Linked DNA regions of Homo sapiens: regions 1 and 2 are each linked to region 3. The links come from fine-mapping of genetic effects on gene expression. A gene starts in region 3. Each other region holds a variant in brackets. All regions are shown on one strand. Distances are from middle to middle. Region 1 overlaps PRDX6-AS1 (PRDX6 antisense RNA 1). Region 2 overlaps RABGAP1L (RAB GTPase activating protein 1 like). Region 3 holds the start of PRDX6-AS1 (PRDX6 antisense RNA 1).

Evidence for each region. PIP is the estimated chance that this variant, and not a neighbour inherited with it, causes the effect.
Region 1: its variant is fine-mapped to the expression of PRDX6-AS1 in whole blood (INTERVAL, PIP above 0.99). The same link has a PIP of 0.9 or more in skeletal muscle.
Region 2: its variant is fine-mapped to the expression of PRDX6-AS1 in whole blood (TOPMed, PIP 0.99).

What each region holds. Positions count from the first base shown.
Region 1 is chr1:173,415,757-173,420,756 of GRCh38, reverse strand. It overlaps PRDX6-AS1 (PRDX6 antisense RNA 1), which reads left to right. Exons shown (of 2, transcript NR_125960.1): 2 at 2,135-2,968. The region is part of intron 2 of LOC100506023 (a long non-coding RNA gene); the gene reads left to right. It also overlaps a transcript of TNFSF4 not described here. Among named protein-coding and RNA genes, the nearest start is that of PRDX6-AS1, 43 kb to the left of the region's middle. RefSeq lists enhancers at 378-477, 2,236-2,575, 4,384-4,433, 4,464-4,593. The variant TA/A (reference allele first, on the strand shown) is at 2,132.
Region 2 is chr1:174,163,050-174,168,389 of GRCh38, reverse strand. All of the region lies in intron 1 of RABGAP1L (RAB GTPase activating protein 1 like), which reads right to left. Among named protein-coding and RNA genes, the nearest start is that of RABGAP1L, 6.2 kb to the right of the region's middle. The variant T/C (reference allele first, on the strand shown) is at 2,939.
Region 3 is chr1:173,458,248-173,463,587 of GRCh38, reverse strand. PRDX6-AS1 (PRDX6 antisense RNA 1) reads left to right here and starts at 2,226. Exons shown (of 2, transcript NR_125960.1): 1 at 2,226-3,210. LOC100506023 (a long non-coding RNA gene) reads left to right here. Exons shown (of 3, transcript NR_037845.1): 2 at 1,134-1,264. RefSeq lists an enhancer at 2,997-3,496.

The sequences.
Region 1 (5,000 bases), 43 kb after region 3:
ATTAACAACTTGGGAGGTTTTCTTTACACGTTTATTCCCTAGGGCATCATCTTTAAATTATATTTAGTTTTTGCTAAGTTGACCAGTTTGTGGTTTTAAGTGTTTACTTTCTTTTCTTTTGAAATGTAGGGAAAGCATATTTGACATCATCTTAAAGAAATTATGTAGCCATATAAAACCGGAGGGTAGGGTCTACTGGCCAGGAAAAAAAAAGGCCTTTACTGCCACCTGGTGGCCATATTCTTTAACTGCAATGTGCCTAAGTGAGGCTGGAAAGGAAAGCGTTGGAAAACATGCTAAACCCAGAGGGCACCAAGGCCGCGTCATGACAGTAAGAGCCGTCAAGTACTGTGTCCTTTCCCTCAGTTCTCAATCTCTCACAGCTTGAGGCTTGAGAATTAGCAGCTGGCTACGAGAGGTGGAGGAGAGAAAATGGTGAAGTCCATGCCTTCCTCCTTGGTACCGAGTTTCCAAACCTGAAGTGAAGGAGTCTGAGAGGGGAGAAGCTTCAGGTTGAGTAGACTGTTTTTTACTTTTTTTTTTGTTTGTTTGTTTTAAAGAGCCTCTTTATTTAATGGCTCAGAGTGGCTAGAAAATCCGTGGTATTGGTTAGCTTTCATCTCAAGTGCAGGGACAAGGCAAATCCAGAGAGAGGAGTTGAAAGGACAAAGAAAAAAGAAAAAAAATTGCTTTTTACGTGCATTTTGCTGCATGCAGCTCACTCAATAAACATGCGTTAAATGCATAAATATATCATGAGGTAAAAATCGGGGGAAAGGTGATGCATTGATGCTGATAGAGGACAGGCAAACTGCATTCCATTTGGACCGCAGCCTCTCATCCCCCCCCCCGCCACACAAACTAAGGTCAAAATCAGGGAGGGAGTCCAGGGTAAAGTTATCAGTAGAGTCAGCTCTAGGAGCTATAGTTAATCTATTTTAAAAAATCTTAAAAAACCCATAAGTCCATTATAGCAGGGACATAAAGCAGTCCTAGCCTCCTGACCCTGACCCAGCCATGGCAATCAGGGCTGCTTCCTTTTATTCTCCCTTGTGTCCTCATGGGTCTTTCCAAGCCCTGCAGGGAAGGGTGGAAGCTGGTTCCATCAGTGCCTCTCCCCCAGCTTCCACCCTCCTCTCTCTTCTGTGACCTCTCAGTTTTCCTTCTCTGTACCCCAAATCATGCCTGTCTTAGTCCATTGCTGTAACAGAATTCTACAGACTGGATCATTTATAAAGACAAGAAATTTATTGCTTATAGTTCTGGAGGCTGGGAAGTCCAAGCACATGGTGCTGGCATTTGGTGAAGGCCTTCTTGCTGCATCCTCACGTGGCAGAGGGCATCACATGGCAAGTGGGCAAGAGCAGGCTTGTCCGCTTGGGTTACTCTAACTCTTCTTTTTTTTTTTTTTTTCTGAGACGGAGTCTTGCTCTGTCACCCAGGCTGGAGTGCAGTGGTGTGATCTCAGCTCCCTGCAAGCTCCGCCTCCCAGGTTCAGGCCACTCTCCTGCCTCAGCCTCCCAAGTAGCTGGGACTACAGGTGCCCGCCACCACACCCGGCTAATTTTTTTGTATTTTTTTGGTAGAGATGGGGTTTCACCGTGTTAGCCAGGATGGTCTCGATCTCCTGACCTCGTGATCTGCCCGCCTTGGCCTCCCAAAGTGCTGGGATTACAGGCGTGAGCCACAGCACCCGGCCAGGTTACTCTAACTCTTCTTATAAAGCCACCAGCCCCACCGTGGGGGCCACACACTCATGGCCTTATTTAATCTTAATTACCTCTCAAAGGCCCTACCTCCAAATGTCATCGATATGTGAATTTGGGAATTAAGTTTCCAGCACATGAAATTTGGGGGTCACATTCAAACCATAGCAATGCTTAACCTTAGAATACTGCCTGGCATCTGCCCAGGCTTCCACAGCCACTACCTCTGGGACATGTTGGGATCTCTGTTTACATGTAAGGCTCGCCATGACCATTACACATCTGTGAGTCAGTGTAGGGTCCTGGTGGAAGCCCGGTCTTGGAGTCCCTCCATTATGTTTGCTACCCTGGCTCTCCACCTTCAATTTCTGGCTTCTCATTTTGGACTATGATGATTTTCTTGTTGTTAATTTTTTTTTTTTTTT[TA/A]GTATGAAAGTTTTCAAGACGCCTACAAGTGGAAAATGCACTCCTCCCAGCCAAATCAAGCTTCGCCAGATTCCTTACAGCTGTGTGCAGTGAAATGACTAATGAAAGAGCCCTCTGCTGCTGGTGGAACTTTCACATATGGCACTGTTATGCCACTCAGCAGGACCCGACCCTGGTATTTACATATTGGATGTCACCCCAAAAGCCCCTGACCAGGGGGTTTCCGGGATGTAATAAGAATGCCACTCTGGGCTTTGGAAGGTGCACCGTATGCACACCCATACTATAGGGCAGGGGTTAGCATTTCAGACCCCTGTTCCTCCCTTGACAAGCAAGTGCTTTTCTCCAGGGAAGACGTTCAGGTTCATTCATAGATCCATTGGTGCCGTGGGCAGCTCAGTAACAATAGCTCTGCTGCCTACCAGCTGCTGGTGGAGGTGTTGAGAATACCTAATGAGGAAGTCAGGGCCCCTGCGTGCTTCAGCAGAGCTGGATGCCTGGCATGGCAATCAATGGACACAAACCTTTGGATAATTTCCGTCCTTGGCGGTGTGTTCTATAGCATAGGTATGAAGTGGGTGCTCTGGGAGCTCAGAAGAGGGGCTCTTCTCTTAACTTATGGGTGGCCAGGGAAGGCTTCCTGGAGCTCAAATGACTGAGTGGAGTCTTCAACATTAAAAAAAAAAAAAAGAAAAAAAAAGTGCTTCCCTCCCACCCCCAGTTAAAAAGGTAATACACCTCATTGAAATAATTTAAACTTTACAGAAATGTGTTCCTTTAAAGTTCAGAGAGTAAAGAGGAAGTAATAAAGCTGAAATAGTAGAATTTCTAATTAACTGGAGCCTGTAGCTTTCTTCCTGAAAAGGGAGTGGTGTGTGTGCATGTGTGAGTGTGTGTAGGTGAATCTGTAAAGGATGGAGTAGTACTAAAAAGAGGGAGGTGAAGACGGAGGTGAGATCTCATCTTTGTGCCCTGAACCTCTTTGTTATAATGTCAGGCAATGAGAGAAATCAGTACTCACCCTCTATGGGACTCTGGCTTTTTCAAACTTGGTTTTCTAGGTTTTGGTCTTGGTTATTGATGGCTTGTAACTTCAGAGTCTCATTGCTGGCCACGCTTCCACGTGGTTTATTAAGATGTTTTCCTAAACAAAATTGATCTCTCCCTAAAAAAATTATAGGTCTAGCTGTAAGATGTTAACAATATTTAACCTGCTACAATGCCAATAAGAGTTCTTGTTTATTGAAGACTTTTTTTGCACCAGCTATGTGCTAAGAGCTTTACATTTGTTACCTCATAACATCAACCCTCACACGAACCTTATGAAGCGGGTATTTCATTATTCCCACATCCCAGATAAGGAAGCTAGGATTATTATTGCTGCACCCGCAAAGCTGATAATCAGTGGGGCTCGGCCCCAAACCGAGGTGTCTCTGACTCCTGGGTCTATGCTCACAAATGCACCATTCCTCTGCATTATTTCTCAAAAATATTTGGCTATAGGAGCATTTTCAAAAGTGAGCACCACTTACCTCTTAGTACTGTTATTAGCATTCCGTGGGACACAATTTGGGAAATACTGCCCCAGGAAAATACTGCCCTGTCTTTAAAATAGAGATAATAATACAATCTCCATATTGTGATGATTAAAAGACGTTTCAGGAAATGGGTGCTGAGGATACTTACCTTCCACCAGGAATGTGTGTGTGCTTTAAAAATAACATTTGTGGCCGGCCACAATGGCTCACAACTGTAATCCCAGCACTTTGGGAGGCCGAGGCGGGTGGATCGCTTGAGTCCAGGAGTTTGAGATCAGCCTAGGCAACATGGCGAAACCCTGTCTCTACTAAAAATACAAAAATTAGCCGGGCATGCTGGCGCACATCTGTGGTCCCAGCAATTCAGGAGGCTGAGGTTGCAGTGAGCCAAAATGACATCACTGCACTCCAGCCTGGGCAACAGAGTGAGATCTTCTCTCTCTCTCTCAAAAAATAAATAAATAAATAAATAAATAAAAATAAAAAAATAACATTTATAATGTCCTCAGTGAAAGGAAGCAATGTTTTGGCCAGGATGATAATGAAGATATTGTTACTGGGCTGGGAGACCCTTGGGCCCTGTTGGGGAGGGCCCTGTAAGCTGCCACTGCCCACCCTCCACAGGTGCCCCTTTGGTCCCCTTCCCTCTCCTCTGCCCTCTGGTTCTCTCCGTCATCCCTCTGTAGTGCTTGTCTTTGTTCAGGAAGATGCTCCATTTGCCTGCCTCTGGGCAGGGGACTTGCTTTAAGCCACGCTGCTGCCTACTCAGGCCAGCCCAGGATGTCTCCTTTGCAAATTTGGACCATGTTCTGAGCCCCAGCTGTAGGCCAGAGATCTGTGACATATTGGGCAGACCACCCACAGCCCAGCTGCTGCCACTGCTTAGCCTACATGTGCCCAGAGAGCTACACTATCACCACCCACCACATCTCACCGACAGACCCTGCCTTTAGAGACAAGGACCAACCTAGGAGAGCCTGGGTTGGCTCTACCTCCCTGGGCATTGATTTGGACAGCTCACCAACTCCCAAAGGAGCCAATCTTCTGGCCTGGTTGGCTCCCAACCTACTCCCTGCCCCATCGGTTTGCTGCAGAGGCCCGGTGGACCTGGCAGTCCCACATCATGACATTCCTTTTCTTCCATGCACCAGTTTTGCACAGCTGTCATTTTTCTTTCATAATTTCATCAGTCCCACAGATACGCACATTTAGGCAAAAATACTATGAACAAAACAGACAAACAAAAACAGGCCCTCAACCCAGCTCCTGAATACCAGTTAGAAAGAGCATTTGCATTCTTCTCAGTAAATATCAAGCATACTAAAAAAGA
Region 2 (5,340 bases), 700 kb before region 3:
CTTCAGAAACCCTACTGTCTGCCAATATATATATAACCTCCCTTCAATGGTTGATTTTTCAATGGTCAATTTTTCACTAAAGTAGTATACTCTATTCAATTTTTTTTTTTTTTTTTTTTTTTTTTGAGACCGAGTCTCACTCTGTAGCTCAGGCTGGAGTGCAGTGGCACGATCTTGGCTCACTGCAACCTCCATCTCCCAGGTTCAAGGGATTCTTGTGCCTCAGCCTCCCAAGTAGCTGGGACTACAGGCACACACCACCACATTCGGCTAATTTTTGTATTTTTAGCAGAGGTGGGGTTTCACCATCTTGGCCAGGCTAGGCTCAAACTCCTAGCCTCAAGTGATCTGCCTGCCTTGGCCTCCTAAAGTGCTGGGATTACAGGTGTGGGCCACCACCCCCGGCCATCAATGTATGCAAGATAAATTGACTACAGAAAAATAAACTATTCAAAGAAACACCTAATAACCATTCTAACAACTATTCCTTTATACAATGCTCTCAGCAAAAGGCCTCACAATGACAATTACGACATCTTGAAGCACAGAAAACACTCCATGTAGTTTATAAAAAAAACTAGTGATATGTGTCTCTTAAACCTTCATAACTCAAAACCACAGGTTTGTATTTTTTCTAAAAATAATATTTATTTGCATCACTTGTAGTAGAAGTCTGATTCTTAAAGTCTTCTAATTTTGCTTACTGCTAATAATGAGAATGGTAAACGGGTGTATGTGTGGGGTAAAGGAGAAGTTGAGAAATTCCTCACTGGTATATGAATGAATTCCATACTTGCCTTTTAAAATGTGCTCCTTTCTTGAAATTGGGCATACAAAAACTCCCTTTGGGTTTGCATTACTTTCATATTTGTGAATACTCACATGGTAGTCTTCAAAGAGCTAGAACACTTGTTTTCAACCATTTGCCAGGTGGGTGTATTTTCACCACAAATTCCAAGAACTAATGATATGTAAATATATATGTATGTATGTCTACACATACATATATGCACACTATGTGTATGCGTGTATATCTTTACAAATGTTTACATAATTTAATTAAGGGCACCATCATTATACTTTTTACCACACACACAAAAAAAATGGTGGCAGAAAATCTGGAAAGATTCTAATAACCTCAATTCGTGAAAACTAACATGCCTCAAAAAAGAGGGGGAAAAAACTTTAACAGAAACACTGTGCTGACATGATTAGCTTTATCATTTAACTGGTGTGAGGCATCTGGGCCATGCCATATTTGAACTCTTATCGTGGTGTTTGGGGTGTGCTATATTGTGGAACAGGTCACATGAAACTGCTGACACCTTCTAAAATGGTAGGACAACATTTACATATTAGGAGCTTACATAACTGAAGAAAATCGTGTGGCAATGACACAATTCATATTTATTTTAGAACCACGGCTCATCTCAAAAACTCTTTATCAACTATCCAGAAGTAGCCCAGCTTTTTACCAACCAAGTAGTTATTTACTATAGCAACTTCTTTACCAACATTTCCAAAATTTTCCACACACTTCCATGATGAGCTATTAAGCAGTCTCTGTATGTGTTGTTACCTGGGCAACACTCTAAGAAGGCTTTTACCTTTACAGAACTGGTGGGTCAAAGAGAAGCAAGGCTTCTTCAAATCGACTACACACTATTTAATTAGAAGCAGTAAGTGTGAAATCATCAGCAGACAGAAAAGCTTGAGAACTGCCACCAGTACTTCAACTTGATTAACAGACACAACTTACTGGCATTTATACCTTCATTTCTAGCTACCCAATTCCCCTGTGAAACAAGGCAAGTTCCATCCAAGACTTCAAAACATCTTCAGTCATACAGGCTGTCAAAGACATAAATGCTGAAATCTAAGAAAATTCTTGGAATAAAGAAGCCATCAATTCCTTACAAGTGGATTTTGTATAAAATACCCTGCTTTGCTGCCCTAAATTCTAAAAGCTACTCAGCTTAGCTGCAGATCTGTATAAACTACCCTTCTGCCTGAACTAAACCTGCCTCCAAAAATTAAGATCCAGTCATTTAGAAATCACATTTTAGAAGGCCCTTGTAAAGACTTTCAAAACTGCTTCCTGTTCTACTACAGCCAATTTGACGCTAATGAAGAAAAACAAAAAACAAACAAAAAAAAAACACTGTCTCTCCTTACAAATAAAATATTTTTCACTTTCCAACACTTTTAGGATTGGTAAACTCAAGGTTGCTTCTCTAACACTAATAATTTTTCCCTTCAGCTTCTACTCTAAGGATACTTATGTGCTCTCTGGATCATATTTTAATCATAACATATAAATCCTGTTCAATGTTAAGAAGTACTAGATTACTCCAGAGTCAAAAATGAAAGATAAACTGAAAAGCAGAAAGGAAAACTGGCATTCTAGGCTCTTAACCATCTGGTGCTAACGGACTCTTTCTTGCCTAGCTCTTTCACTACTCATTTTTCCCTGTCTATGCTTGTATGCCTTTGATCACCCTGGCCCCTGGCCCAGAAAGGCCTTTCTCTCATACTAGTTGTCCTATTTCCACATGTCCAAATCCTACCCATTCTTCAAAGCATAGTTCAGGGGCCGGGCGTGGTGGCTCACAACTGTAATCCCAGCACTTTGGGAGGCCGAGGCAGGAGGACAGTTTCAGTCCAGAAGTTCAAGAACAGCCTGGGCAACATAATGAGACCCCGTCTCTACAAGTAATGAAAAATTAGCCAAGCATGTTGGTGTGTGCCTATATAGTCCCAGCCACTTGGGGGCTGAGGCAGAAGAACTGTTAGAGGCCAGGAAATCAAGGATGCAGTGAGCTGTGATGGCACCACAGCACTCAGTTTGAGTAACGGGAGTGAGATGCTGTCTCCAAATTAAAAAAAAAAAAAAAAGTAGTTCAAATGTCACCTCTTCTTTTATCCTTAAAACTAAAAG[T/C]AGACCGGGCACGGTGGCTCACGCCTGTAATCCCAGCACTTTGGGAGGCTGAGGCGGATGGATCACCTGAGGTCAGAAGTTCAAAACCAGCCGGGCCAACATGGCGAAACCCCGTCTGTACTAAAAATACAAAAATTAGCCTGGTGTGGCAGTTGGCGCCTGTAATCCCAGCTACTCAGGGAGGCTGACGCAGGAGAATCACTTGAACCTGGGAGGCAGAGGTTGCAGTGAGCCGAGATTGTACCACTGTACTCCAGCCTGGGTCAAAAACGAAAAACAAACAAACAAACAAAAATAAAAGTAATCTCTCCCTCCTCTCTAAACTCTTATAGTTCCTTATCTTTATCTTTTTACCACCCATTACTTTCTGCCTTTCATTATCACTGTTGTTTCCATATTTAATCCCCCACCTAAGCATAAAGTCCTCAGGGTCAAGGTCCATCTTTATTCAAACTGATTAACACAATCCCTTATACACACTAAGTGAGGTTAGGAAAGAAGCCCACCAGAAACAACTCCAGATTGAGTCCAGAGCCCTGGCTTTGCTAATAACTCACTATCTGACCTTGGCCTTGAGGCTCTTAGTATGTTCCTTCACTTACAAAGTTAAGAGGGTAGGCTAAACTAGTTGTATTTGTTGTTAAATGTAGGCTATAATCCATTAGCTGGGTGTAAAATTAATTTGGAAGTCAAAACCCAGCATTTTTAAAATGAAATGAAATAACAGAATATATCAATGTGTGTTATAAGCAGTGGGGTGCTATAAATGTTTAACAACTACCTATGAGGAGGGAAGCCCTAAGAATACCATTTGCTGAATTTCCTGGTGTAAATATTCCCACCATGACCAATTTTGAGCTACCAACATGATGTCACTGGACAAAGAGCTAGATAGGAAGAAATATGCACAACTGGTCTTGCAAGCCATTATAGCTAACTCAGTAGGGCCCTGAAAAGATAAATATTATTTCACCAAACTTTCAACTTTGTGTGTGTGTGCGCTTGCGGAATCAAGTAGTAAAATGTATTTTTTATTGTGGGTCACAGTCAAATGAGTTTAATAAATGTTCAGGTAAACAATCTCCTGGTGTCCTTCATGTATACTACATAATTTGATAAATCTTACTCTTGGTTACAGATGTCTCTTCACCACAATTCATATTTTTCTTCAAAAATGGGAGTAACAAACTGATATCACCAGAAGGCAAATTACACAGAGCAGGAATTTGGTTTATGGAATATCAGCCAAGTGCCAAGGTTTTTAGCATTTGTTCAGCCCTACATACCTGAAGGATATAACACACTCCTACTATCAATGGCTCACTTAGCAATGGGTTGGGGGGCAGGTAGGGGGTAAGAGGAGGAAATCCATAGTATAAAAAAAAAATCCAGATAATTCTAGTATTTGTGCTCATGTTCCCACCCCACTGAATACCCAGATACACAGAAAATTAGAGCAGTAAAAAGTAAATGTTCCATGCCTGATGTTTCCCAATCAAATTCCCTTGCATCCCTCAATGAGACTTCCATTACTAAGAATCACCTACTGGAACTAAGCTTTTACCATGGACTAGGGATGCATAGTTCTTGCTGAATTTAGAACAGGCAACAGGGAAAATAACACAGCAAACAGTTGTTAGGCTTCATATTCTGGGAAAATCAGCCTTTTATTAAAAAAAAAAACTGTCTTATTTTCCTCTTATTTAAGCTTACTAAACTGGGTGAGAATTTTCTTAAATATATTTTTGGCTGTACTATGTCTATCACAACACAGCCTGTAACCAGATTTTTCATGAGTATTTATAAAGAATTGTGTTGTTGTTGGGTTTTTTTTTTTTTTAAGCCCAACAGCACTGGCAAATGTTTTCTACTTTAAAAGCTATTTAGAAAATAAGAAGGCTCAGAATTTCAAGTATACTAATAATCTTAGCCCAAATCTAACTCTAAATCAACTGAATATATGCCTAGAACTTTCCCAGGAAAATCCCCAAAAAGTACACCAAAAAACACCAAAAGATAACAAAAAAGAGTTAGCATGCGCATAAACTTCGTATACCCAATTATGCCATCCCATCTGTTGAATAAGAGCAATATGGGAAGTAAACGAAGTATAAAAAGAAGATGTTCAGAGATGCAAGCTCTTCTTAATTCATTAACTCTTCCTTATTAGGGTCCACTGATGTTCACATACTTATACCCAATTCAAATACTGACTATAAAGTCAAAATTATTTCCCGTTCTGAAAGTCTAGGAGTCAAACAATGTCTTTCTCTATAATATCAGCATTAAAACTCTCCTTTAAAAATGAGTATGTTTTACCATAACTCAGGCTCAAGTCCGTACTTTCTCCGCCTCCACTGTTTGTAATGGCAAAATGCTCATCAGATCATCTCCACAAGAAA
Region 3 (5,340 bases):
TATGGTTTTGAGTGAATTTCTTAATCTTGTGTTCTAATTTGATTACACCTTGGTCTGAGAGACTCTTTGGTATGTTTTCAGTTCTTTTGCATTTGCCAAGGAGTGTTTTACTTCCAATTATGTGATCAATTTTAGAGTAAGTGCTGTGGCGATGAGAAGAATGTATATTCTGTTGTTTTGGAGTGGAGAGTTCTGTATATAGCTATCAGGCCCACTTGATCCAGAGCTGAGTTGAGGTCTTGAATGTCTTTGATAATTTTCTGTCTCAATGATCTGCCTAATATTGTCAGTGGGGTGATAAAGTCTCCCACCATTATTGTGTGTGAGTCTAAGTCTCTTTGAAGGTCTCTAAGTACTTTCTTTTTCTGGGTGCTCCTGTATTGGGTGTATATATACTTAGGTTAGTTAGCTCTTCTTGTTGAAATGAACCCTTTACTGTTATGTAGTGGCCTTCTTTATCTTTTTTGATTTTTGTTGATTTAAAGTCTGTTTTGTTATAAACTAGGATTGCACCTGTTTTTTTCTGTTTTCCATTTGCTTGGTAAATTTTCCTCTATCCCTTTATTTTGAGCCTATGTGTGTCTTTGCACGTGAGATGCGTCTCTTGAAGATAGCATACTAATGGGTCTTGGCTCTTTATCTAGCTTGTTATTCTGTATCTTTTTTTGGGAGGCATTTAGCACATTTTCATTTAAGATTAGCATTTTTATGTGTGGATTTGATCCTGTCATCATGATGCTGGCTGGTTATTTTGCAGGTTTATGTGGATACTTCATTGTATCATTGGTATGTCAGTGTGTTTTTGTAGTGGTAATGGTTTTTCCTTTCTATATTTAGTGCTTCCTTCAGGAGCTCTTGTAAGGCAGGTCTGGTAGTGATGAATTTCCTCAGCATTTGTTTGTCTGAAAAGGATCTTATTTCTCCTTTGCTTATGAAACTTAGTTTGCATATGAAATTCTGGGTTGGAAATTCTTTTCTTTAGGAATATTGAATACTGGCCCCCAATCTTTTCTGGCTTGTAGGGTTTCCACTCAGAGGCCCAATGCTTGTCCGATGGCCTTCCCTTTGTAGGTGACCTGGTCTTTCTTTCTGGCTGTCCTTAACATTTTTTTCTTTTTTCTTTTTTTTTTCAGATGGAGTTTCACTGTGTCACCCAGGCTGGAGTGCAGTGGCACGATCTCAGCTCAATGCAACCTCTGTCTCCTGGGTTCAAGCAAATCTCCTGCCTCAGCCTCTTGAGTAGCCTGAGTAGCTGGGACTAAAGGTATGTGCCACCACACCTGGCTAATTTTTGTATTTTTAGTAGAGACAGGGTTTCACCACGTTGGCCAGGCTGGTCTTGAACTCCTGACCTCAAGTAATCCACCCACCTTGGCCTCCCAAAGTGCTGGGATTACAGGCATGAGCCACTGTGCCCAGCCAACATTTTTTCTTTCATTTTGACTTTGGAGAATCTGCTGATACATATCTTAGGGATGATTTTCTTGAATAGTTATCTTACTGGGGTTCTCTTGTTCCTGAATTTGAATGTTGGCCTATCTTGCTAGGTTGGGGTCATTCTCCTGGATGATATCCTGAAGTATGTTTTCCAACTTGGTTCTATTCTTCCTGTCTCTTTCAGGTACCCCAATCAGTTGTAGGTTTGGTCCTTTTACATAAACCCATATTTCTCAGAGGTTTTATTCATTCATTTTCATTCTTTTTTCTCTATTCCTGTCTACCTGTCCTATTTCAGAGAGATAGTCTGCAAGCTCTGGGATTCTTTGCTCTGCTTGGTCTATTCTGCTATTAATACTTGGGATTACATTGCGAGTACTTGTAGTATGTTTTTCAGCTCTGTGAGGTCGGTTATGGTCCTTTCTATACTGGCTGTTTTGGCTGTCAGCTCCTGCATTGTTTTATCATGATTCTTAGCTTCTTTGCCTTTGGTTAGGACATACACCTTTAGCTCAGCAAAATTGGCTTTTGTCCACATTCTGAAGCTTACTTCTGTCATCTTGGGCTCAGCCTAGTTCTGAGCCCTTGCTGGAGAGGTGTTGTGATCATTTGGAGGAAAAGGGGCTCTCTGGGTTTTTGAATTTTCAAGATTTTTGCGTTGATTCTTTCTCATTTTTGTGGGCTTATCTATCTTCGATCTTTGAGGTTGCTGACCTTTGGATGGCGCTTTCATGGATTGTTTTGTTTTTTCATCTTTTTCTTTTAGCAGTCTGTTTACTCTTCCTTACAGATGCTGCAGTTAGCTGGGGGTCCACTCTACACCCTGGTTGCCTCAGTTTTTCCTGTACTTGGAGGTATCAGCAGTGAATGCTATGAAACAGCAAAGATGGCAGCCTGCCCCTTCCCCTGGAAGCTCCATCCCAGGGCGGTACTGTCCTGTTGCCAGCATGAGCACACAGTATGTAGGGGGTGGCTGGAGACCCCAGTTGGGACATCTCACCTAGTCAGGAGGAACGGGATCAGGGATCCACTTAAAGAAGCAGTTGGGCTGTTTTTGATAGAGCAGTTGTGCTGTGTTGGGGATCCCATCAGCCCCTTGTTGGTTTGGGCTCTCCGAGGCCCACAGGCTGAACTGGCTGAGGTGCCCAACAGCCAAGTTGGTGGCCCGCCTTCCCCTCTGGGCACTCTGTCCCAGGGAAAAATTAGAAGTCTGTTGGCCACAGAACATGGGCGGGGGTGGCTGGATACCCCAGCTGGCATGATCTACCCGTCAAGGAAAAGTGGATCAGGGTCCCACTTAAAGAAGCCATCTGGCCATGCCTCAATAGAACAGCCTTGTTGTGCTGGGAAACTGCTTCTGCCCTTGTTGGCTTGGACTCTCTAAAGCCCACTGGTTGGAATGGCTGAGTCATTCAAACAGCCAGCTTGGTGGCCCTCCTTTCCTCCCCTCCTCCCCTCCCCTCCTCCTTCCCTCCTCGCCTCCCCTCGGGCATGCTATTCCAGAAAGAGATCAGGATCCGTTTGTGGAATACAGGCAGAGATGGCTGGAGGCCCCGGTTGGGAGGTCCCTCCCAGTGAAGAGGAATGGATTGGGGCCCCACTTAAAGAAGCAACCTGGCCACGTTCAGGCAATGCCGCTGTAGTGTTCTGGGAAGACCCTTCCTTGTTTGAACCATATGGATTCTCCGAAGCCCATAGACTGAAATGGCTGAGTCAACCAAACAGTAGAGATGGCAGCCCACCCCTCCCACTGGGGACTCTGTCCCATCACAGGTAGGCTATATTCCAAGCCAGTAGGTCTTATTTTGTGAGGTGTTGTGGAAGTGGGACCCACAGATTGATGCTGCTTGGCTCCCTGGATTCAGCCCCCTTCCTAGGGGTATGTACAGACCTCCCACCTTGCCTGAGTTACAGACACCTCTGTTGGGGATCCTGGGGCCGGAATATGTAAAGTTCCTGGATCTCTATGCATGCCTGAGCAGCTGCTCTGCTGAGACTCAACACACCTCTGTGTGTGGGACCCAAGACCCTGGTGATGTGGGTGCACAAGGTGGTGTGGGTGCACTGATCTCCTGATCTGTGGGTTGCAAAGATCCGTGGGAGAAGCGTGGTTTCCTGGGGTTGCACACTCACTCACTGCTTCCCTTGGCTGGGGGTGGGAGTTCTCTTGGCTTCATGTTGCTCCCAGGTGGGCTATTGCCCCACCTTGCTTTTCTCTCTTCTCCATGGGTCGAGTTGTTTCTGTGATCAGTCCCAGTGTGAGTGCCTGGATATTTCAGTTGAAGGTGCTATATTCACTTGCTCCTTTCTTCCTCTCCCTGAGTGCCACAGACAGCTGCTGCTTCTAATTGGCCAACTTGGCCCCCCTCCCCTGGGTTCTTAATAACGTAATTAAACCACAACCCATCCTAAAACTTATCCTACTTCTAGATTTCTGTTGAGTTCAGAAATACCCTCATTTTTAAAGATAATTGGAGTCAGGGTTTCTGTTACTTGCTGTCAAAAGCATTCTTAATTAGACTTGCTAATATTTGACTTTGGATTTTAAGAATAACCCAATATGTATTTTATTTTTACTATTGTTTAGTATTTAGTATACTTTAGTATCAGAATTAAATTTGTCAGTGAAGTGTATTGGGAAGTTTTTCATAGTTTGTACTGGCCGAATGTTTAAATAATCCAGGAATTATCTGTTCTTTATGATGTATTAGAACTTACTGATAAAACAAACTGGAACTGGTGCTTTTTTTGAAGTTAGAGCTTTTGCTGCATTTTCAAGTTTTTCTTTGATTATTGGGATAATTTCCTCTCTTCATGAGCTAATATTAGTAATCTGCATTTTGCTAAAAATTTGTCTATTTCATGTAGATTTTCTAATTTACTGGTGGGTATTTGGAATTTTAGAATTTTAAAAATCTCTTAATGCTGAATTATTTTTCTTTCCTTGTTGTAGATATTTGCATTTTCTTTCTCTTTTTTTCTTGTTCACACTTATTAATGGTTTGTATGTTGTATTCTAAAAACAAAAACAAAATAAAACAATTGCTTTATTTACCAGGTCTATGCAATTTTGTTTTGCCATGCTTTCTAGTTCATTAATTTTGAATTTTATTTTTATTAGTTTCTCCTATTCTCTGTTGGCTTATTTTTTTTTTTTTAATTTTTTTAAACTTTCTTGAACTGGGTGCTTAGATCATTTACTTTCAATCTTCCGTATATATTAAGAAGATCACTGAAAGCTCTGAATTTTCCTTTGAGTTAAGACTTTGGTTGTATCCCATAAGCTTTGAAATGGAGTGTTGTTTCATTGGTAATTTCAAACAGTCTGTGTTCTAGTACTGATTTCCACTTTAATCCAAGAGTTGTTTAGAAAACTGTTTTATAATGTCCATGTAATTAGATTGAGTTTGCTGTCTTTTTCATACTGATTTCTTGTTTGATTACCATGTGATCTGTACCTTTAGATATTTGAGATTTTATTTGTGACTTAGTCCTTGATAAATGTTTATTACTGCTTCATGGCTGTTTAAAAAGAGTGAGTTCTTTCTGTATAAAGGATACAACAAATATTATCTATGTACATGCCTTTCTCTACTTGTTTGTTGATCTATGTATGATGTCCATCACCCCTTATCTGCTTAAGCTCTAAAGGTCTTTTCTCTTTTCCCTACTCTTTCTCTTTCTACATCATCAATTCCTGATTCTCTACTAGATCATTATATTAGCATACAAACATGCTCTAGTACAACTCTCTCCAGTATAAATATGATGTGAGCCACATATGTAATTTAAGATTTTATGGTAGCCATATTAAAAAAGTAAAAAGAAAAAAAAGTAAATTTAATTGTCATATATTTCATTTAACCCAATGTATGTGAAATATTATTTCACCCTATAATTGAT